Homo sapiens: one gene and its partners. The protein of the gene in region 2 interacts with the protein of the main gene of each other region in a pairwise test. Each region holds a gene or a part of one and is shown on either strand. Other genes may lie near its edges. The genes, in order: DGCR6, MEIS2, ZNHIT3, TRIM25, ARNT2, KRTAP22-1 and PBX4.

Region 1 (4,211 bases), on a different chromosome or scaffold from region 2:
GACAGCTCCATAACACAGGGAAGCAGGGAAATGTCATCATCTTCACTCTACTGATCAAACATTGCTACAAGTGCCAGGTCCACTACGAGATTCCACTAGATATGCAACCAAAAGGCAAGAAGAGAGCCACGCCGGCTGCCTGGGCAGAAGGGGCCTGGCCTTAGACACGACCGGGAACACAAAGGAGGCAGGAGCAGCCAGTCACCCCTGCCAAATCAGCAGGAGAAGCAGAAAGTCAACGCAGGCATGCCTGCTGCTGGTGGAACCAGGACCTGGCCCAAACCTTCTGAAGCACAAACAGCATTGGGCCCAGGCAGTTACTGAAACTCCCCATCCTGCTAGAAAGAACTACAACTCTGTGGAAAAATGGCCGATTCCAGGACTGAGACACGGAGAAAACAAGAAAAGATGAGCCTGAACACATACCTGAACCAGAAAGCAAGAAAGTGCTCACAGAATGATGGGGCGGCATCTAAAGGTGCCTGGAGCGCCCCCAACTGGCCACACATGGCACAGTCTGAGCATTAAGGAATAATGAGCCATGCACTTGGGATTAGTAAACTGCATGCATCTTACAGCTCAATAAAATTTTTAAAAAGACAGTCACCCAGACATTTAGGGGAAGAAGTAATGCCAATTCTACACAAACTCTTCTGGAAAACTGAAGAGGAGAGAACACTTCGAAACTCATCCTATAAGGCTGGCAAAAACCCTGATACCCAAACCAGGTATTACATGAAAACTATAGACCACAGTTTATCATGAACATAGACAAAAAAATTCTTAACAAGATTTTAGCAAATCAAATCCAGCATACATAAAAAGGATACTACAGCACGACCCAGTAGGATGGAATTCAAGTGACTGTAATTCACTGTAGTAATAGAAAATGATTCACCACGTGATCATCTCAAGAGCTGCCAAAAAGGAAACTGCCAAAATCCAACATCCATTCTTGATAGAAACACACCAATCCTGGAGCAGATGGACACTGCCTGCCTTCTGGGGAAGGGGGCCTTGCCCCGCTAGGAGGAATTTTTGCCACATTAAACCTGCCTCTAATCAGGCTCCTACCAGGAGTCCAGTGTACAGTAAACCCAGAGAGTGGAGAAGCAGGTTAAATGCACGAGGAAGCATTTCCTCTGATAGATCCAGAGCAGGGCATTCTAATTATAGAATTAGACTCTATAAAAAGTCAATGCCACAATAAATGTTGGGGACTGTTCCAGAAGCAAAGAGACCAAAGTAACCAATTGTAGTACATGAACTTGGACTGGATCCTTACTTATAAAGCAACAATTTGCCACAAGTTAGGTACCATGATGTGGCCATGCACTGAAAGTCAGGAGACACCTGGAACAGTTAATTTCTCAGGGGGCTACCCTCTGCAGCTGTGTAGGAGACCGCTCTTGTTCTAGAGCACTTGCTCCCAATCCAAGGCCAAGGTTGACCCCACCACCCAGGTTGTCTGGAGGCATTCTTGGTTTTCACGACTAGGGAGGGTACCCCTGCCATCCTGCAATGCGCAAGACAGCATCTCACCATAAAGACTTACCCAGCCACAAATGTCAGCATGGCTGGGTTGAAAATCCTGGTCTCCAGGAATGCTGAAGACTCTTGGTGAATTCTATGCTGTCACATGTATGTATTTTGGGATGTCAAGAACTAGAGCAAAATGTTAACTACTGAACTTTCGGTGGAGAGCACAAGCGTATGCACTACACTGTCTTTTCAGTTTTTCCAAATGTTTGAACTTTTAAAATAAGAAGTTTGGGAAAAATAAAACAGCAAAGGTGGAAATCTGATGGTGCAGGGGGACCTGCCCTATATAATTTGCAGGAAAGGGCTCCGAAGCCCAGGAAGCATGCGGCTCAAGTGGGAAGCTCTTCTGGTTTGGGAGGGCGCCACAGGAGACAGTGCTTAGGAATTTGATGTGCAACTAGAATGAGGCCCTGCAGGCCTGAGAGGGAACTGACCCTGAAGGGCGCGCACAGCTGTCAACAGACCTCCAACTACCCAAGGGCGCTGCTCACCTGTCAACAGAACTCCAATTACCGGAGGGCAACGCAGTCAGATCTACCACCAGAGTCAGCCTGCCGGCCAACCAAGCACGGAGGCCTAGGGCCATCAGGCCTGGAAGGGGGTGGGGCACAGGGAAGCCCGAACAGGGAGTTTCTGCTAAGAAGGTGGGTGCTGCGCAACTGAAAACAAAACTCGTTGGACACATTGGTCACCAAAAAGGCGCTGTCTCAGTCTCTGCGCCCTTGATTTTGTTAATCTTAGGGACCTCTTCCGAACACTCCCAAGGAAGGAGCCGAGCTGCACAGATACCAAGAGCTGCCGGGAGGCGCCGACCCCGAGGAGGCGGCACCTCCTCCCGCTGCCCCCGCGCACCTCGATGCTCGTTCTGTAGGCGCAGGCGCTGGTTGTACAGGCTCTTTTCGGTGAGGTGCTGGATCTCCAGTAGCCCCTGCACGATTTCGAACACGGTGCCGTCGAGAAGCGCCAGGGCCAGGTCGCTCAGCGTGGTGTAGGACAAGCGCTGCTGGAATGAGCTGCGGGGTAGAGGAGCGCGGTGAGCCCCGGCGGGACACGATGCGGCCTCGGCAGGCCGCCGCCCGCCCCGCCCGCGTACCTGGGCAACTCCTTCACCAGGCTCTGTAACGCCGACAGCAGCTGGTAGTGTCGCTCCTGCTGCCGGGCACCGTCCGCCACCTCCTCCAAGGCGCCCGCGTAGCGCTCCATGGCGCGGACGCCCGCTAGCCGCCGGCTGCAGCGACGAGCGCCCCCAGCTCACGTCATCCCGACCGCGGCGCGTCCCGCCCCTTTTATGACAGTCCCTAGCGCAGCGCGCCCCGCCCGTCTTAGGACAGTCCCCGATCGCGGCGCGCCTCGCGCCTTCCCCGCCCCACCACGCGCCCCGCCCCTTGCGTCATTCAGAAGGAGACGCGCCCCGTCCCTCCGTGGTGGCTGCAAGGAGGGTTTCGCTCAGCTGAGGCTCATACCTTCCTGCTCCCCGGGCCACTTTAGAGGCGAGACTCCGTCGCCTGGATATCGCAGGACCATGTAGAATCCCACCGGCCCTTGCTGAGTCATTGCGGGCTGAGGTCCGGGCTCCGCGCCGGCGCGCCTGCGAGGTGGACTGTCCCGGTCACCGGCCTTCCCAGAGGGAGGGGTCTCGGGCCAGAGCCCACAGGACCTGGGTCTAAGGCACCATCGCGGCCGAGCAGTGGTGTTGGGGTCTGTCTGCGTCCTCTCTGCCCCCGGAGTGAGACAGACAAGACCACCCTAGAGCCTCTGGGCCAGGAGAGTTGGAACCGGAGTCCCCATCTGGGCCTGCCGTGGTCGCCCCGGGGTGCCCAGCCCCCAGCCGGAACCGCGAGCCCAGACTGCCCTCTCCCCGCTCCCCAGACCAGCTGCTGGGCCGGGGCTGGGGAGCTTCTGGTGGCTGGTGTGGGCGGCAAGCCACCCAGGCGCTGAGGCAAGAGACCGAGGACACGAGCTGTTCCAGTATAATAAAATATAAAACAAGAATAGTTATACCAGATATAGATCTTAGATATGATTATATATGAATATCAATAATCATTAGTTGGTAGCAATTACTCTTTATTCCAGTATTATAATAATCCTCACTCTATAATCATAACCTAGGAAAAACCAGGCCATACAGAGATAGGAGCTAAGGGGACACAGTGAGGGGTGACCAGAAGACAAGAGTGCGAGCCTTCTGTTATGCCCAGACAGGGCCACCAGAAGGGCTCCTTGGTCTAGCGGTGACGCCAGCGTCTGGGAAGATGCCCGTTGCCAGGTGGGCCGTGGTCTAGCGGTAGTGAAAAGTGTCAAGGAACAACACCTGCTACTTAGCAGACCGGGAAAGGGAGGCTCCTTTTCCCCGGGGGAGTTTAGAGAAGACTCCGCTCCTCCACCTCTTGTGGAGGGCCTGACATGAGTCAGGCTTGCCTGCAGTTATCCGGAGGCCTAACCATCTCCCTGTGATGCTGTGCTTCAGTGGTCCCGCTCCTAGTCTGCCTTTATTATGCCTAGTCATCCTGTACACCTGGCTCTGCCTTCTAGCTAGCAGTAGTCAATTAGTGAAAGTACTAAAAGTCTCTGATATGCAGAAATAATGGCATAAGCTATCTTTCTCTCTGTCTCCTCTCCCTCTCTGCCTCGGCTGCCAGGCAGGGAAGGGCCCCCTGTCCAGTGGA
Region 2 (2,923 bases):
CGGGCATGAAAACACATTCTTGAAGCTGGAGTTCGAGTGATGAGGTTCAGCCAAAAGTTCATCATGATCTCCAGTGTGGTTCTTTTCTCATTGGCCCAACAGGTTTAAAATATATACCACAGTCTCTCCTGGATGGTGAATTCACTGATGAACCAAAACAGTCATTCTTTTGGGAACAACACACATAGTGTGGAAAACAAGGATATATTTTTTTTTCTCTTCTAAAACTATTTGAGGCAACATAACGGCGTGATCAACAGAAATGTACAAGTTTAACTTAGTTCCTATATTTATACTACAGTAGTTATAACTCTCGGAGTCTTTTTCCAGAGGATCTTTACATGGACAGAATTGTCTCAGTCAGCCCATGATTTCACATTTGTGTTCTTGTTGCATTGGTCCTCTGTTGCTTGATGAAAAATGACAAAAGTAAAAAATAATCACAGCTGTCTGGAATTTCATATTAAGTGTCAACATCTGGTCAAAGTTCAGAAAGTCTTAAAATAGTTTTTGCGTGTGTTTCCTTTTCCCTTGAGTTCCCTTATACTATTGGGCATGAATGTCCATAACCTGTCCGCCAACATTGGGATCTACAGAATTTAACATTGTGGGGCTCTGTGCTGACATAGTCATTCCAGGGTGGGTAGGGGGTCCTCCGTGCATCATCATGGCTGGGTGGTGGGGATGGCTTGGCAAATATGAATGCATTGGGGGTCCATGTCTTAATTGAGTAGGGTGTGGGGTCATCTGGGGAGGAGTGTAACTTGGCTGTGCCATACTCATTCCCATAGGACCACCCTGAGAAACGTAGTCCCCTGGCATGCTCTGCAAACCTGAAAATAGAGAGGGAAAAAGAAAGCGGGTCAAATTCCTAAACATTTTTATACTTTACCCATCAAAGATGAAAAGAAAAAAAAAAAAAAAACAACAGACACTGCAAATCTTATACCTAAATTTAGCTGCAGATTCTTGCCAATGTTTGCAGACATTCAAATTGTAGTTTGCATTTAATTTCATCGCACAGCAGTATAATGCAACACAACAGAACTAAATATTTAATGCAACTAAATGTCATAAAGTGGAACTGTTTTTCAAAATGGTATTCAGTACATTTCTTTGATAAATGCAATAAGAATATAAATTTTGAGTCGAGTTTTATCAGTTAACTGTTGATAGATCATTTATTTTTCTGTGTTGCATTTGTAGACCTGGACAAAAATTGTAGATAGTAGAATAAAATAAAATTGACATCTTATCATATCTATATTTCCTCATGAAAAATTTATTACACAAAACATTACAGCATATTCATTTTGAAGAAATGAGCTTTTACGTGTATTTAAAATGAAGCCCCCTTTTTGAATTAGAGGCATTCCTATAGCAGTACACCCAAGAGATTGTAAAGGTCAAAGGTAAGAAGTCAATGTGAGGTCATATGACATGCCCGGTAGTTTATCTCTGAAAATCCCCCCAAATAATGCCTTGATATTAGGAATAAAATGTAATAAATGTAGAAATTCTCAATTGAGATATGCAACATTCAAAGTTATGAGTTAAATGGTGGGAAGTCAGCAATTGTAAGGATTCTGATTTCTCTTACAAGTTACCTGTTTATTGAATTAAGGTTATATTTACTGTTGCACATCCCCGGATCTAAAAGGACAGCTTTATTCACCTCTATTTAACCTCCAGTGCATACAGTTGAAAAGCTGAACAGATGTTTTTGACACTGTAAGCTGGTAATCTAAAGGCTTATATGCTGCAGTCATTTTGTTAAGTAGATCCGCAGTCCATTATTAACAGAAGTGGCAAAACCATCTAAAGACAATAACACAGCCTGCATAGTCCCAGCTCTCTGTTTATTCTACCACAGCAGCCTGCTCAATGGATGATGATAATTAAGTACCAAATATACCATATTGTGTGGCTGCATAATCAAATCAAGAGAGGATAATATTCTTCTGTATTAAGCTATTAATGTAATTGGTCATGAAGCATAAAATATGTTATGTAATTAAATAGGCTAGAAATTATATGGCCTATATTAAGAACTATCCAAGCTGAGCAAATGTTTTCTCTATAGCTGTTTTAGGGAACATTGCTTTCTACATTTTTTGACTGCATTAGTAAAGGAAGGAAGGAAGGAAATTGGCTTCATCAATGGTGTGCCGTGGTGACCCCCTGAGCTCCCCTATAAAATGTTGGCCTCTATTTACATATAGAGAATGATTTAATCAAGGTACGTGTTGTTATATTCAGCCTCATTAAACAAGGAAGTTTCAATGTTATATGAATTTTTTTATGCTCTGGTGTCTTCAGCAAAGGATATATCTTGTTGGCAGACTCTGAATTTTTTTCAGATGTCAAAAACACTTGAAGCTTTAAAGTCTAATGGGTTTCTTAATCCAACTGCAGCCATTCAGCCTCAGTGAAAAATCCATTCCTTCATATTCAGTTGCTCCTAAATGTCTTTCCCTTTAAATTTATTGACTGACTTTCCTGTCTTTCTGTCTCATGTCGGAAGTCAGTAGGCACATGTAAAAAATAATCAAAACACACCGACTCCCTAGTGAAGAATCAATGGTGTCACTGCTGTCATATATCTAGACTAGGCATAATGAACTGCAGCATTTCATCTTTGCATATAAGATAATTTGGGCATCAATCGTATTCTGACAGATTTATGTCACTCAAAGGACAGTTCTACTTTTCCTTTTTTTTTTTATCGCTTCATTGAAGCCTGCTTAATTTCTCTCAGTCAACTGGTGCCCCCAAGACATTATTTTTATTCTTAAATGTCCAATATCTGCCTGATGTCTGTGTTTGTGCACATTGGGGCCACAGTAAATAGGCTAAAAGGCAGTCCCACCTGCTTAAAACACACGCAGGCTTGTCAGTTGGCCTTTTCAAAAGTGCACATCAG
Region 3 (3,321 bases), on a different chromosome or scaffold from region 2:
AGCTATTGTTCTGGATTCCCTGACCAGCCCCACTCTCCCCTTTTCCTTCGACTTATTCTATGTGAAGTCCCTTGTAGATTTGTTTGAAGTCAACCAACCCACCTTTGTTTTCCACAGGCTTTACGGTTTTGGTAGGAAGAGCTGATCTTATTTTTTTCTCAACAGGACGAGTTTCAGGGTTGCACTGTTCTGAAAAAGACACAAATCCCAGGCCCACATTACCTCCATTTCAGCGACAAGGCTGCACCTCCCTACCAAGGTAGCATCTAGGTAGGAAGCAAGTGTCTGGGGTAAGGGATGTGGGTGGGTGCCCAGGAATGTGGAAGAAGTGAGAGATCAAAGCAAGAGAGAGATTAAGGAAAACCGCCAGCAGGCTGAGAAAGCAGGACTCATTCATGCACCCCAAGAACCTGTCCCCATCCTCCCTACCCTGCCGAATCTTACAAAATTCTCACCACAATTAACTGAGGTGTTTGAAATAGCTGCTGTAAACCAGATACCAGATGGGATAAAACTAGGGGCAAAACCACCAAAGAACTTACAGAGTCAACAGAAGGCCAGCTGTGCTGGCTCACGCCTGTAATCCTAACATTCGGAGGCCAAGGTGGGAGGATCACTTGAGCCCAGGAGTTTGAGACCAGCCTGGGCAACCTAGCAAGACTATGTCTCTACAGAAAATAAAAAAAATCATCCAGGCATGGTGGTACACACATGTGGTCTCAGCTACTTGGGAGGCTGAGGCAGGAGGATCCCTTAAGCCCAGTGTGTCAAGGCTGCAGTGAGCTGTGATTGTGCCACTGCACTCCAGCCTGGGTGACAGTATCAACAGAGCATGAAGTCACAGGAAAGGGTTCTGAGGACATAAAGGCAGGACCAGATTGTAGAGACTTAAAATGTAGATTTGACAATATGCTACGGAAAGGTTCTAGTCATGTAGGTGGCAGTTACAACAGCTGCCAGTGACTAAGTGCCGAGCACTGTGCCAGGTACACAGTGAGATACATAGTGGCTCAATGAACCTTTACGAAGCCCCCATGACATGGAGACTGTTAATTCCACTTACAGATGAAAGGATTAAATTTTCTTGTAATAAACTTGTCCATTGGGGTCCACAGCTAGTAAGTAGCAGAGGCAGATTTGGAATCCGGGTCTAACTTTACGGCTATGCTATATGTGTAAGGAACACAGCAGGAGGGACTGAAGGAGAGGTGAATTTTCTGGGTTGTACCTGACCCCAAAATACATTTGTGTCTAAGGTGCTCAAAAAGAGGCTGGAGCTAAACAGTTGGATGTCAGCAAGAAAAAAAAAAGTTTAAAGTGAAAGAGAGATCACCTACCTAGGAATAAAAGTCAAGGACCACATTTCAAGAGAGAGATCTAGCAAAAGGAAGGAGAAGCTGGGCACAGTGGCTCCTGCCTGTAATCCCAGCAATTTGGGAGGTTGAGGCAGGAGGACTGCTTAAGCCCAGGAGTCCAAGACCAGCCTAGACAATACAGTGAGACCCTGTCTCTACGAAAAATAGATAAAGTTTGTCTCCGTTACTCAGGAGGCTAAGGTGGGAGGATCACTTGGGCCCAGGAGGCCAAGGGTGCAATGAGCTGTGATCACACCACTGCACTCCATCCTGGGCAAAAGAGCAAGACCCTGTCTCGAAAAAAGGAAAAAAAAGAAAACGAGAGTCTACAGCTAAGCCACCCTGAATGCACCCTATCTCATCTGACCTCAGAAGCTGTAACAGGGTCAGGCCTGGTTAGGACTTCGAAGGGAGAAAGGGAGGAGAGAATACCACAGAGCGGTATCTTCCCAGCCTCCAAAGAATATCAAGAAAGAAAAAGCCAAACACAGCAGATATTCATGGGAATCAAGAAAGATGACAGGCTGAGCATGGGTAGCTCACGTCTGTAATCCCAACGCTTTGGGAGGCCAAGGTGGAAGGATCACTTGAGCCCAGGAATTCAAGACCAGCCCAGGCAATACAGTGAGACTTCATCTCCACAAAAATTAAAATTAAAAATAAATAAGCCAGGCATGGTGGCACACGCCTGCAGTCCCAACTACTTGGGAGGCTGAGGTAGGAGGACTGCCTGAGCCCAGGAAGTCAAGGCTATAGTGAGCACCACTGCACTCCAGCCTGGGTGACAGAGCAAGACTTTGTTGCAAAAAAATAAAAAAGACAAATGAAAAGTGTACAACAGATGTGGCTATTAGAAATTTCTGATAAAAATTATTTATTAAATACCACTTTAACACTGCCTATAGCAGCAACAAAGGCAAAATTAATGTAAATATCCACCAATAAGAAAAATAAATATTAAAATGACCATACTACCCAAAGTAATCTAGAGTCAATGCAATCCCTATCAAAATACCAATGATCCTGTTCACAGAAATGTCAAAAAAAAATTCTAAAATTAATATGGAACCACAAAAGACCCCCAATAGCCAAAGCAATCCTGAGCAAACAGAACAAAGCTGGAGGCATCACCACTACTTGGCCTCGAAATATACTACAAAGCTATAATATCTAAACAGCATGGTACTAGCATAAAAATAGACACATAGATCAATGGAACAGAATAGAGAACCCAGATATAAATTCACACATTTACAGCCAACTGACTTTTCACAAAGGCACCAAGAGCATATACTGGGGAAAAAAGCACTCTTCAATAAATGGTACTGGAAAAATAGGATAACTGTAAGAATAACCATATGCAGAAGAATGAAACTAGATCCTTATCTGTCACCATATATAAATATCAAAATGGATTAAAGACCTAAATGTAAGACCTGAAACTACTACAAGAAAACACAGGGGAAATGCTTCAGGACATTGGTCTAGGCAAAGATTTTATGAATAAAATCTCAAAAACACAGGCAAGAAAAGCAAAAATAGGCAAATGGAATTCTATTACACAAAAAAGCTTCTGTACAACAAAGGAAACAATAGAATGAAGAGACAACCCACAGGATGGGAGAAAATATTTGCAAAATATTCACTTGACAAAGGATTAATATCTAGAATACACAAGGAGCTCAACAGCCAAAAAAAAAAAAAAAAAAAAATTAAGTGGACAAATGGGCCGGGCATGGTGGCTCACCCCTGTAATCCCAGCCCTTTGGGAGGCCGAGGCAGGTGGATCACCTGAGGTCAAGAGCTCAAGACCAGCCTGGCCAACATGGTGAAACCTTGTCTCTACTAAAAATACAAAAATCAGCCAGCAGGCACCTGTAATCCCAGCTACTTTGGAGGCTGAGGCAGGAGAATCACCTGAACCCTGGAAGCGGAGGTTGCAGTAAGCAGAGACTGCGCCACTGTA
Region 4 (3,500 bases), on a different chromosome or scaffold from region 2:
GGCTGGCTATAAATGTAATGTTTTGCTGATCTTTGAAGGGTGAGAGGAGTTAATTAGTGAAGACGGTGGAGTTCAAGCCTTCTGGAGAGTGGGGAAGAGCAAACACAAAGGCCCTGTAGCAGGAAGTTTTGCATATTTGAGGAACTGAATGCAGAGAGATGCACCAGAGGAGAGTGGGGGGCGCCTTGGGGCTGGAGAGAGACCAACAGGGCTTGACCTGGCATCTAGACCAGGGTCAAGGGTTTGGTCTGCATCAGGGAGTAATAGGAAGCCTAGTGAGAGGGCAAAGCAGAATAGGTCCCAGGACATGAGCTCTGCATCATGAAAATCCCTCTCTGGCTGCAGCGGCAGATGCAGAGGGTTTAGGAAGCTGCTACAGTCATGGGGCGACAGGTGATGGCAATGGAGAACAGGCAAGCAGTGCTAGGATCAGCAGACTGAGTCAGGAGATTGAAAGAAGTGAAATTTGGCAATGGATTGGATATGGGGTGATGAAAAGGGGGTGTCAAAGAGGAATTCTAGATTTCTCCCCCAAACGGGCCATTCCCCCACCAAACACAATAACAAGCCCTAGCTTATTCAAAACCCATCCAAGTTGGCCTCAAGATCACAGGCCAAAAGAGCCTATCTGTCCAGAAAGTCCAAGCATTAACATCAAGTCCCCAAAAATGCTTTAGGAAAGATCCTAAAATGTCAGGATGAAGCAGACTCCCCACCAGCCTCCAGACAGAGGGCGGATGTTTCAGGAGCCCTGAAACTCAGGCCCCAGTGCTCGGGATCACGCCCCAATCTCCCATCCCAAAACATTTAGGGGACCCATCGGGTTGCAGGGTTCCACAGGGGGCAGCATAGGGGGCTGCTAAGGTCACCTGAACTGGGGGTGGGCTCCTGGAGCCGCCCGATGCACTGCTTCAGCTCGTTTTTGAGGTCTATGGTGCTCTGGTGGATGCCTTTTATCAGCTTGTGGTTCAGTTCCACCTCGGGGATGTAGACTGGCTTTGTTGAGATTCCTCGCAGTTTTGATGCTTTCTGGAACATGCCAGGGGGTTAGTGCAGGCAGCTCTGGTGAAACGGGGACCTGGGCTCAGTCCTCACCAACCCCAGGAGGCTCTCCCCTATGCCCAAGAGTGCTAAGTCCAATTGGCCTTCTCAAATTACAGGCCAGAGGTCACCAGGAGTTTAAATGACACTTGAAGACACAGTAATCTGGAGCTGGAGGGGACCCCAGAGGTCACTCATCTTACAGATGGGGAAACTGAGGTCTAGACATGGCAGGAACTCCACCAGCTAGGGGCACAGACACAGCTGGGACTGAGATCTTCCGATCCCCCAGGACAATGTTCTTTCCACTTTTCCAGCTAAAGGTGGAAAAGCACAGGAAACTCAGGACCACCCCAATCCTAGGGGAACAGCTCTAATCACACATTCTGGTAACAGACAGGGACATCTCAAGGGATGTGGATTGCAGCCAGGGAATATCTTATGGGAAGGGAGGGTCTTCCTGGAAGTCCCAAACTTTGAGAAAAATAGGGTTGTACAGTATCAAGAAGCCTAGATGTGCACTCAGATCCTTCGAGAGCTCGGGGCAGCTGCTCCAACAGACAGGAATGAACACTTGGGATGAAACTTAACGCCATCCAGACTAGGCACGCATCAGGCCTCAGTGCACAGAGACAAGGTTCCCATTCACTCCTGCACTGTCTCCCCACCCCCTGATCTGAACAAGGAATCTGGGTCTTTCAGGTATAGCTGCAGGTCACTCAATCAATGGGGCACACCACTATATGCCAAGCACTCTGCTATGTGCTGGTCAGATTGGCAGGAGGATGAATGGGGGTAATAAGAGATGGGCTTACAGTCAAAACAGCCATGAAAAAATGCACATCTGAAACAACATCACCCAATGTTACTGTAGAAACAGTGTGGCATGCTTGGGAACACCGATACGGCATGGCAATGGGATCCAAGGCCCTGGAAGGATACGACTCACTAGGCAAGAATGCCCAGCATGGCATCCCACCCACACCCACTGTGTCTGGGGAACAGTGAGTGCATAGGGCATGAGCCAGGGATGGATGATATGAGATGAGACTGCTGGCACAGGCGGGGCCCAGTCACCTAGGACCCTGCAGGCCATGTTAAGGGACATGAGGCCAGAAACAGCAGGGGGCCCATGCTTTAGACAGATACTTTGATACAGTCTGGATGTTTGTCCCCTCCAAATCTCATGTTGGAATGTGATTCCCAGTGTTGGAGGTGGGGCAGGGTGGGAGGTGTTCGTGTCGTGGGGGTGGATTCCCCATGCACCGCTTGGTGCCCTCCCCATGGTAACAGGTGAGTTCTTGCACAAACTGGTTGTTTAACGGAGGCTGGCACTTCCTCCTCTGTCTCTTGTTCCCTCTCTAACCCTGTGACATGCCTGCTCCCAGCTTCACCTTCTGCCATGAGTAAAAGCTTCCTTCCTCACCAAAGGCCTAACTAAAAGCCAAACAGATGCTGGTGCCATGCTTGTACAACCTGTAGAACTGTGAGCCAAATAAACCTCTTTTCTTTATAAATTACTCAGTCTGGTTGGGCGCAGTGGCTCACACCTGTAATCTCAGCACTTTGGGAGGCCGAGGTGGGTGGATCACCTGAGGTCAGGAGTTCGAGACCAGCCTGGCCAACATGGTGAAATCTCGTCTCTACTAAAAATACAAAATTAGCTGGGCATGGTGGCGTGCGCCTGTAATCCCAGCTACTCAGGAGGCTGAGGCAGGAGGATCACTTGAGCCTGGGGGCAGAGGTTTCAGTGAGCAAGATCACACCACTACACTCCAGCCTGAGCAACAAGAGTGAAACTCCATCTCAAAATAAATACATAAAATAAATAAATAACTCAGTCTTAGGTACTCCTTTATAGCAATGCAAAAGGGACTACTAACACACACTTCCAGGAGCTGCTGGAGGAAGGATGGGAGGAAGAGGTGGAGTGTGAGTGGCAGGCAACGTTCTAAGATGGCCCTCAAGCCCCCGACCCCGACTGATGTACATACCCTATAGTATGCCCTCCCCTTCAGTATCGGCAGGACGGTGAATGAAATAGGATATCACTCCTGTGATTAGGTTATGTCATGTGGCAAAGGGGGTGGAATATTGCTGGTGTAATTAGCATCTCAAATCAATTGATTTTGAGTTCATCAAAGGGCAATTATCTGGGGTGGGCCTGACTTAATCAGGTAAAAGACCTTAAAAGAGGGATTGCATCTTTCTAGAGGAGAAATTCTCATGCTGGCCTTGAAGAAGTCAGCTATCAATCTGAGAGACAGCCAGCAGGAAATTGCGGGGGGCCTCAGTCCTACAACCATAAGGAACTAAATTCTGCCAACAACCACATGAGCCTGGAAGACAACCCTGAGCTCCAAAGGAAACAGCCTGGCCATCCCTCGCAGACTGTAGCCTGGTGAGACCCTATGCAGGCCACCCATAAAGCCATGTCCAGATTCCTGAGCCAGAGAAAC
Region 5 (3,500 bases), about 44 Mb from region 2:
TGGGGCAGGTCAGGCTGTTGGACTAGCTCACCACACGAAACTCTTTGTTCAATGAAGAAAAGTTATTTCTCAGTTTTAGCCAAGCTCCTTTCCAATTGAGGGCTCTTGTTTATGTTGTGTCCCTCTTCTTGGAATGATTAATTGCTCACTGTCCCTCCTTCCCTACCCTTACCCCCTCCTCACTCCTAACCATTTTCCTGTCCAATTCCTACTTTTCTTCTGGTCTCAGCTTGAATTCTTACTCCATTAGGGAAATCTATCCTGATCCCTTTATCCAGGTAAAATGTACCTATCATGCATTCTTCCAGGGCCCCATAAAGCTGTACTTTGCTTCTGGAGCACTTCGCCTCATGTAAATTGTGCAGTTATTTGATTGATACCTGACTGGAAGCCCTGTGAGGGCAGGGAATGTATCCAACAGTATGGCAGCCCTGGCACCTACCATATTGCTTCCCATACAATAGATACCCAGTAGGGTTTTGTTAATGAATAAATGGAGGGATGCCAGGGAACTGTCTTTTATTTTGTATGTGGCTGCCTTTCAATGACTCCCTTGAAGGAAAGAAAGCATATATCCTATATTTGTGGGTCTCTGTAACAAAATAGTCCAGAGCTGTCTAATTGAGATTCTGACTTTTATTTGTGGAAACTGATTTTGATCTGAAAATCCTACCAAGATAATCCCTATGCAAACTAGTTCCTCTAGACTTTCTAATAAGGAGCCTTGGACACACAAAGCTCATCATTCTTCCCAGAAGAAGATTAGGTCAGAATTGAACAGTCGAATGTATTTATATATTTTTATTTTATACTGCTGTCCACAAAGGTTACACCAGAGGCTTAGAGAGGCTCAGAGACTTACCTCGAGTCCTCAGCAGGTGGGTGGGTGAGGAGGTCCTACACCTACCTGATACCTTGGACACACAAAGCTCATCATTCTTCCCAGAAGAAGGGTAGGTGATAGCTTGGAGACTGGCTGGTGGTAGTGGTAGGTTCCGTGTTACAGTCCCACAGGGTCTTCTCAGAAGGGAAGTGGGATCCTCCCATTTACTGCCTTCTGTGTTGTGTGTGAAACTATTGACATGGCTTGCTTAATTACCAGCAGTTACTGATAAGACAGACTCCAGGCTGGCTTTGAGATTCAGCCACCCCAACAGCATTCAGGAAGGCAGCAACAAGGTCAAAAGATGCATTCATTGCCCTCTGATTGAATAGTGCAGGCTTTAGAGTTGGAAGCTGAGGCTCTTTGCAGATAAGCAGAGACTCTGTGGCTGCCAAGTCTATAACAATTTGACCATTTTTTTCAGGGAAATCTACAAAAATGCCAAAATGTTTACAAATAGGTACTTCCTGCTTTTGTACATTGTATGAAAACATGGGACATCTCTTACTGTTTTGGTTTCATTGTGAGAACATACAAAGCAGAGGTTGGAGCTCTTCTCCTAGCCCCTGCTGAGGAGTTGGTTGCTTTCTTCACCACAACCACTTTTCCCCCACAATAAAGATCTGTGTTGATTGTAAAAAATTTGGAAAATGCACAAAAACACTAAGATAATTCTGCCACCCATAACTAACATTTTTGCGTATATCCTTACAGACTTTTTTCTAAATATTGTGTGTGTGTGTATATATATATATATAACAAAATAGAATTATTTCGAGCATATTGCTTTGTCATCCCTTTTTTCCCTTCATTAATGGTATATCCTATCAAGGATACTGATTTGAGAAGCTGCATATATTCTGTTTATGGCTGTGTCATAATTCATTAACTCACATTCTTATATCTGGGCATATAATATTTGGTGTGCTTTTCTGTTTGCCAGAATTGTACACACCATTGTATTGAACATCCCCGTATATGAATGAATATATGAATACATGATTTTTTCCTTATTGTCAATTCTTTGAAGTAGAATTGAACAGTCAAATGGATTTATATACTTTTATACTGCTGTCCACAAAGGTTAGAACAGAGGCTCAGAGAGAGGCTCAGAGATTTATCTGGAGTCCCCAGCAGGTAGGTGGATGAGTAGGTCTTACACCCAGACGCTGTGCCCCCTATCCTTGGCAGGTTCCGGCAACCCAGGCCAGGCCCTGTTGCCTGTAAGTCTGGAACTCAGATCATCTACTGATGTCTATAAAGGGCAACTGTGTACCTTTCCTGGCCTCCTTTCAGTGATTTAATAATTTCAGTGGCTTTTTAATTAACTGCTGTTAGGGTAATTGGTCCAGGTCAAAACAGGCAGGAAGTTGCCTTACTCAACAGGCAGAGAGCCTCTGATGGCCTCAGTGGGCCGCTGCAGGGGCCCCATGACTGGGCTCTCCATGCCAACCTGGGTTCTCATCTGAGGCCCCATTGTTCTCCCTCCACCCCCTCCCTTACCAATTCACCTCTTCCATATGGCCTTTCTCAAACGCTGGTGCCACTAACTTACCCAGAAACCTTTGCTCACCGTCTATTGTCCACACATCCTCCTAGGATTGACCTACACACTTCCAACCAGACCACCTGGCTGACAGGGTGGTCCCAGGGCTTAGAGAGCATGCGGCCAGGTGATTTCTGGTCCTGCCTGCCTGCCTGTGATACCATTAGGCAGGCCATGGTGGTTATTCCTGTTTCAAATGCACATTCAGGAGTTGTTAGTAACTGAGGATAAATGTGTTTGTTTCTGATTTGGCCATCCCTACTTTTCTTCCAACAACTCTAAAAAAGTGGAGAGCAGCTGCAGGTGGAACTAGGCATCTCTCTATCCAGGCTTAGGTGGCAAAAGGAAAGACTCTGAGGTAGGACAGCCTGGGAAGATTCAGGGGTGCAATGTCCAGGGTGGGAGCACCAGAGGAGTTGGCCTGAGTGGAAACCCAGCTCTTCGGGTAGAGCCAGGCCTTCCAAGAGACAAATTAGCTGAAGGCCTTACTGGTGGCTGAGCGAGGGAGGTGGGGCCAAAGGAGAGGAGGGTGGCCTTCCATATACTCTGCCTGTTGAGTAAGGCAACTTCCTGCCTGTTTTGGCCTGGACCACCCAATTACCCTAACAGCAGTTAAAAAAGCCACTGAAATTATTAAATCACTGAAGGGAGGCCAGGAAAGTTACACAGTTGCCCTTTATAGAGGTCAGTAGATGAGCTGAGTTCCAGACTTAGAGGAACAGGAAGCCAAAGTTAATTGGTGCACCAATTTTTAAATTAATAGCCACACAAAATAGTATTGTCTTTCTTATCTTCAATAGACCTCTAAGTTGGGTGGCAGGACATGTGAGAAACCTGGGCACAGAGGCCAAACGTGTATCCACACAGTGCTTCTCAACTGGGGGCATTTGCAATGTCTGGAAACATTCTTGGTTGCCACACCTCCAGGGAGTAGGGGTGCTACTGGCATCTACGGGTAGAGGCCAAGGATGCTGCTAAACATCCTACTGTGCACAGGGCAGCCCCCACAGCAAAGAGCTTATCCAGCCTCAAATGTCAATAGTGCCAAGGTTGAGAAACTCTGGTCTATGG
Region 6 (2,227 bases), on a different chromosome or scaffold from region 2:
AAAAATGCAACTAAGTATCAAGAAATGTAATGTATGTGCAACAGAATAAAGTGATGAGAAGGGAGGTACTATTTTTGCCAATGATTTTAGTCAAACATTGGATACACTGAAGATGAGGCTTTGATAGATCAAAGTAAATTATAGTACCACTTGGCTCTGCCCATGAGAATACATTTTATCAAAGTACTATTGGTCAGACCTAACACATCCACATCATCAACTGTAAGTTTCCAATGGGTCAGCAACCTTACATATGTGCTCCTGAACACACACACACAATCACAAATAATATAGGTACTCTAGATAAATAAATATAGGTAGGAAAATGCTGTAGGTTTGCAAAATAAATTACCTTTGAAGAAAAATAAATTTAGACTTTTTCCCAAATGAAAATGCTTAACATTATTTGTACTTAATCATATACTAGTAACACAACATCAAAGGTTCTTTTTTCGTTTGATTAAATTGTTGGAAATTCCAGCTAATTGATCAAATAAATTCTGACTTGGCAATGTGGGCTAAATTTTAGTTGTCACTCTTTGAACAGAAAAAAACACGGGAAGAAAACATAGCTCATAAGAGAATGGCCTAAACAGATCAGCAATCTCTAATTTCTCAGAAGCAGCCAGAAAACCAAGATCTTTCATAACACCATGGGCAGTAGCAGGCATAGCCATAGCCGCTAAGACCACAGCCATAGCTGCAGCCCAGGCCTCCTTTGGCATAGCCCTGGCCACCATGGTAGTTGTTATCAAAGCTCATGGTTTCAAGAAAGGTAGGCTCAGTTGTATAGCAGGATCAGATTCTAGAGTTTTAAGTTTATAGAGTTTTAAGTTTAAAGTTTTAAGCTTATAATAAGGGCCTTAAATGCCACATGAATGGTATGTGGGACAAATCACAGGCACTGTTAGATTCACATTCCACACTAATTAGCATTGAAACCATCTAAAATATTCCTTGTAACCAATACATCCAAGACAACTTTGCTGTTTCTCAGGAATGTTGAATATAATGAAATAATGTACCTTTAATAAGAGATCCATCTCCTATTTTGATGACTCGTTTATTTCAGATGTCAAATTTAAACTACATTACCAGCAACCAAGAGTAACCCACATGGCTTCCACTTGTTGTTGTTGTTGTTGTTGTTGTTGTGAGACAGAGACTAGCTCTGTTGCCTGGCTGGAGTGCAGTGGCACAATCTCACTGCAACCTCCACCTCCTGGTTTCAAGTGATTCTCCTGGATTCTCTGCCTCAGCCTTATGAATAGCTGGTGCGTGCCACCACGCCCAGCTAATTTTTGTATTTTTAGTAGAGATGGGGTTTCGCCATGTTGGCCAGGATGGTCTTGATCTCCTGACCTCAAGATCCGCCCGCCTCGGCCTCCCAAAGCCTGGGGTTATGGACGTGATGGCTTCCATTTTTTAAAAATCCTACTTTCACCCAATAATATCCTTCAGCCTAAATACATATATGCAGACTTGGGAATAAGAGTGTAGCTCCAAAGTGATAAGGAAGGATGATAAGCGTGTAAGAGAAGTCATGGTGGCAGCATTCACTTGTAAAATGTTGAGTGATAAGGTGTTTCATCACTTTTTGTGGAGCAATATCATTCTCTTTGGTTTATACTTCACATGTAGCTATCATTTTATATATGATTCTAAACCGTGGCAAAGACTTTGATTTTTGACTTCGTTGATTCTGGGTATATAGTAAGAAAAGGACTTCTATTAAAAATCTGAATTTTAAAACAATTCCAGAATTACTCAAAGATTTATTGGCATCATGACTCCCTGAGATGGCACAAGACAAGAGTTACATCTCTTCCCAAATGTATAACCTCAATCTACATATGAGGAAACCTTAGACAGATTCAATTGGGGAATATTCCACAAAATATCTGGCTCTCTAAAATTGTAAGGTCATAAAAGCCAAGAAAAGACGAATGAACCATGAGCAATTGGAGGTGACTAAGAAGTATAAAAACCAAATGCAATGTGAATTGGATCCAAGAACAGAAAAAAAGAACATTAAAATAAATATGTGAATAGTGCTACAATGAACCATGGTCCTAGAACTTAAAATAAAATAAGTTAATAATAACAGAAAAATGGTAAAATAAAGTCTGCAGTTTAGTTAAGAATACTGTACACAGTTAATTTCTTTGGTGTGATAAGTGGATTATGGTTATGAAAGATATTAATATTAGGGATGTTGAATGATGGA
Region 7 (3,500 bases), on a different chromosome or scaffold from region 2:
ACTTGCCGTGAATGGCGCCGACCATGCGCTCAATCTCCTTAGGGGAGACAGGCCTCATCCTGCTCTGCTCCTGGAGGAGGTTGGTGACGTGCGTGGTGAACTCACGACAGGCCTGGGGTGGGAGCACAGACACGCCGGCCTGTGACTAGGCAGCAGGGTGGCACAGGGCAGCAGGTTCCACAGCGGAGCAGCCGCCTGCCACCCCCTGTAGTTCACACACCGGCGGGTGACTGTTAAGTAAATGGAAAGGGCTTTCAGTAACAATGGACCACCTCTGCAGCGACCAACTGCATGGACTCCCTGTTCTGCGCCACGAAAGAAAGGTGGTTAGCGTTCCGTGTTTCGCTTTGACAAATGCGCATTCACATGACAGAAACTCTTCCATGCAGAAAGATCACCTGTTCATATTTCTCTAGCTCAGAGTGGTAAATCTGTCGGATCTGGGACAGCTTGGCCCTGTAGTCAGAGTGCTCAATGCTATTGTCATTTGGACAGCCACCTGGTGTTGCTGTGCCGGCCCTGGCCACCGCTCCTCCTCTTCCTCTCTTCTCGGGCCTGCACACGCCCTCAGCCAGCAGCATGTTATCCAGCCTCAGGAGCTGGGCGTCAGGGGGATCTTCGTCTTGAATGCCACGGATGCTTACCACTAGATAAGAGAGACCGGGACAAGTCACAATTCATTTTCTGGAGAGAAAACAAACCATGAGAAAATGTGAGCACTGGTGTTATGTCTGAAGATTTTTGCATAGAACCCTTCGGGAGAAAGGAATACTCCACTTTATCACCAAATTGGATGATGGACACTGAGCACCCCGCTAAGACATGGGTCCAAGTGCCATCCTTAGAGCGCAGTCTGGGGAGGAACGGGGAGACACAGGTCGCAGTTTGGCATAGCCTGTGAGGGCAAACCTTGGTCACAGCTGTGTGCACGCAGCAGGGCCAGGCAGGCGCCTGTTGCTGGGGTCACCTGAACCCCTGAACCGAGTCTCAAGAAGTGCTGGGGAAGAGGGGGCACCCAAGATGCTGCATACTGATAAAGGCAAGTGGCAGGCTGGCATTGGCAGCGTGGCTGGCCTGGGCCCAGGACTGTGCAGCTGTAGGCCTGTTGTGGCTGGTGGGTGGGGTGTGTGTGTGTTGGGGTGGGGGTGCTGTTATAAAACTGGATAGGAAAAGCCTGATAAAGAAAGTGCCAGAAAAGATGAAATAACCCACTGAAAGATTTTAAGCAGAGAAACAAGATAATGGGCCCTACAATTTGGAAATGCCGTCCCAGCTCTGCAGAGAGGGGACCTGGATAGGGGCAGGGCTGGACTGCAGGGGAAGCAGTCAAAGGGCAGCCACCATCAAGGTATACACAGCTGTGGGGTCTGCAGGTCAGCTACAGGGCAGTCAGAGAACCCCCAGGATTCGTGTCCTGGGACACGGGTGTCAGAGAAGGGAAGACTCCAGGGTCATTCCCAGATTCTGCCATGGGCAGCACAGCCAATGGCATCGCATTCTCCCAAGTAAAAAGCCTGGAGCTGCAGCTTGTGCAGGTGGGGCTGAGTGAAAAGGTGGCTTCACGGCCGGGCACAGTGGCTCACGCCTGTAATCCTAGCACTTTAGAAGGCTGAGGCGGGCGGATCACTTGAGGTCAGGAGTTCGAGATCAGCCTGGCCAACATGGTGAAACCCCGTCTCTACTAAAAATACAAAAATTAGCCAAGCGTGGTGGCGCCTGCCTGTAATCCCAGCTACTAGGGAGGCTGAGGCAGGAGAATCACTTGAACCTGGGAGGCAGAGGATGCAGTGAGCTGAGATCTTGCCACTGCACTCCAGCTGGGGGGATAGAGAGACCCCGTCTCAAAAAAAAAAAAAAAAAAAAGTGTTCTCTTAGAATCAGGCTTTTTTTTTTTTTTTTTTTTTTGAGATGGAATCTCATTCTGTCACCTAGGCTGGGGTGCAATGGCATGGTCTCCACTCACTGCAACCTCTGTCTCCCAGGTTCCAGTGATTCTCCTGCCTCAGCCTCCCGAGTAGCTGGGACTACACATGCGTGCCGCCATGCCTGGCTAATTTTTGTATTTTTAGTAGAGACAAGGTTTCACTATGTTGGCCAGGCTGGTCTCGAACTCCTGACCTCATGATCCGCCTGCCTTGGCCTCTTAAAGTGCTGGGATTACAGGCATGACCCACCGTACCGGGCCAGAATCAGGCTATCTTAATAAGGTCAGCTACTTACCGAATTAGTGCTCAGATGACAATTCCGTTTGATTATATCATATAGTCATTTACAAGTGTCCCTTTCTTATTCCCTACATAACAGATGAACCTTTTCTGTCAAAAACTCACTAGTCAAAACTGAAGGAACTCAAGCGATATCCTTGTAAGAATTTTCCTTAGAGATTTCCACTTCAGGCTGGGCGCAGTGGCTCACGCCTGTAATCCCAGCACTTTGGGAGGCCAAGGTGGGCGGATCACCTGAGGTCGGGAGTTCGAGACCAGCCCAGCCAACGTGGAGAAACGCCATCTCTACTAATTAGCCGGGCATGGTGTCGAGTGTCTGTAATTCCAGCTACTTGGGAGGCTGAGGCAGGAGAATTGCTTGAACCCGGGAGACGGAGGTTGCAGTGAGCCGAGATCACGCCATTGCACTCCAGGCTGGGTGACAAGGGCGAGACTCCGTCTCAAAAAAAAAAAAAAAAAAAAAGAGATTTCCACTTCAACACTTAGTGCTAGTTTATTAAGCACACATGCAACAAATTTTATAAACCAGGATTTTGAACAAGAGACAAAAAAAATTAGCAACCAGATCCAAGGACTGACCACAAACCTGGTGCTTAATACAGGATAGTGTTGGCCAGGCGCAGTGGCTCACGCCTGTAATCCCAGCACTTTGGGAGGCCAAGGTGGGTGGATCACCTGAGGTCAGGGGTTCGAGACCAGCCTGACTAACACAGAGAAACCCCATCTCTACTAAAAATACAAAATTAGCCGGGCATGATGGCACATGCCTGTAATCCTAGCTACTTGGGAGGCTGAGGCAGGAGAATCGCTTGAATCCGGGAGGTGGAGGTTGCGGTGAGCCGAGATCACGCCACTGTACTCCAGCCTGGGCAACAAGAGCGAAACTCCATCTCCAAAAAAAAGAAAAAAAAAAAATATACACACACACACACACACACACACACACACACACACACACATATAGGATAGTGTCCCACCTTCTCCAAAACTGTTTCTTACTCAATTAAAATTGGAAAAAGCAATATGAGAAAAGTGGGAAGATTTCAAGAAGAATCCACACACCCTGTTAAACTTTCAAGGTAGAATAGATGGCGGCACAAAGTTGCAGACATGCAGAGACTTAACCACAAGTCTCCAGTACCCAGGCAGCGAATGTCCATGGCACAAATTAGTCATGCAAATTAGACATAAATTTGTCTAATTTGATAATAAGAACATAAACTATAATAGAAACAGCCAAAATAGCTAATACATGAGATTGGTTAAGTAAATTAT

What was found.
Region 1: the proteins of MEIS2 (region 2) and DGCR6 interact in a two-hybrid assay, tested with the Homo sapiens proteins (one large-scale study listed by BioGRID).
Region 3: the proteins of MEIS2 (region 2) and ZNHIT3 interact in a two-hybrid assay, tested with the Homo sapiens proteins (one large-scale study listed by BioGRID and IntAct).
Region 4: the proteins of MEIS2 (region 2) and TRIM25 interact in a two-hybrid assay, tested with the Homo sapiens proteins (one large-scale study listed by BioGRID and IntAct).
Region 5: the proteins of MEIS2 (region 2) and ARNT2 interact in a two-hybrid assay, tested with the Homo sapiens proteins (one large-scale study listed by BioGRID and IntAct).
Region 6: the proteins of MEIS2 (region 2) and KRTAP22-1 interact in a two-hybrid assay, tested with the Homo sapiens proteins (one large-scale study listed by BioGRID).
Region 7: the proteins of MEIS2 (region 2) and PBX4 interact in binary tests that used the Homo sapiens proteins (3 or more experiments, as listed by UniProt).

What each region holds. Positions count from the first base shown.
Region 1 is NC_000022.11:18,904,909-18,909,119, reverse strand, and holds the start of DGCR6 (protein DGCR6), read right to left. Parts: upstream 2,801-4,211; 5' UTR 2,746-2,800; coding exon 2,636-2,745; intron 2,556-2,635; coding exon 2,395-2,555; intron 1-2,394. UniProt on the Homo sapiens protein: May play a role in neural crest cell migration into the third and fourth pharyngeal pouches.
Region 2 is NC_000015.10:36,891,627-36,894,549, forward strand, and holds part of MEIS2 (homeobox protein Meis2), read right to left. Parts: intron 834-2,923; coding exon 547-833; 3' UTR 1-546. UniProt on the Homo sapiens protein: Involved in transcriptional regulation. Binds to HOX or PBX proteins to form dimers, or to a DNA-bound dimer of PBX and HOX proteins and thought to have a role in stabilization of the homeoprotein-DNA complex.
Region 3 is NC_000017.11:36,489,681-36,493,001, reverse strand, and holds part of ZNHIT3 (zinc finger HIT domain-containing protein 3), read right to left. Parts: intron 190-3,321; coding exon 103-189; intron 1-102.
Region 4 is NC_000017.11:56,900,550-56,904,049, forward strand, and holds part of TRIM25 (E3 ubiquitin/ISG15 ligase TRIM25), read right to left. Parts: intron 1,030-3,500; coding exon 870-1,029; intron 1-869.
Region 5 is NC_000015.10:80,410,882-80,414,381, forward strand, and holds part of ARNT2 (aryl hydrocarbon receptor nuclear translocator 2), read left to right. Parts: intron 1-3,500. UniProt on the Homo sapiens protein: Transcription factor that plays a role in the development of the hypothalamo-pituitary axis, postnatal brain growth, and visual and renal function. Specifically recognizes the xenobiotic response element (XRE).
Region 6 is NC_000021.9:30,599,656-30,601,882, reverse strand, and holds KRTAP22-1 (keratin-associated protein 22-1), read right to left. Parts: upstream 797-2,227; 5' UTR 763-796; coding exon 616-762; 3' UTR 501-615; downstream 1-500. UniProt on the Homo sapiens protein: In the hair cortex, hair keratin intermediate filaments are embedded in an interfilamentous matrix, consisting of hair keratin-associated proteins (KRTAP), which are essential for the formation of a rigid and resistant hair shaft through their extensive disulfide bond cross-linking with abundant cysteine residues of hair keratins.
Region 7 is NC_000019.10:19,570,188-19,573,687, forward strand, and holds part of PBX4 (pre-B-cell leukemia transcription factor 4), read right to left. Parts: intron 685-3,500; exon of another isoform or gene 647-684; coding exon 399-646; intron 231-398; exon of another isoform or gene 113-230; coding exon 1-112.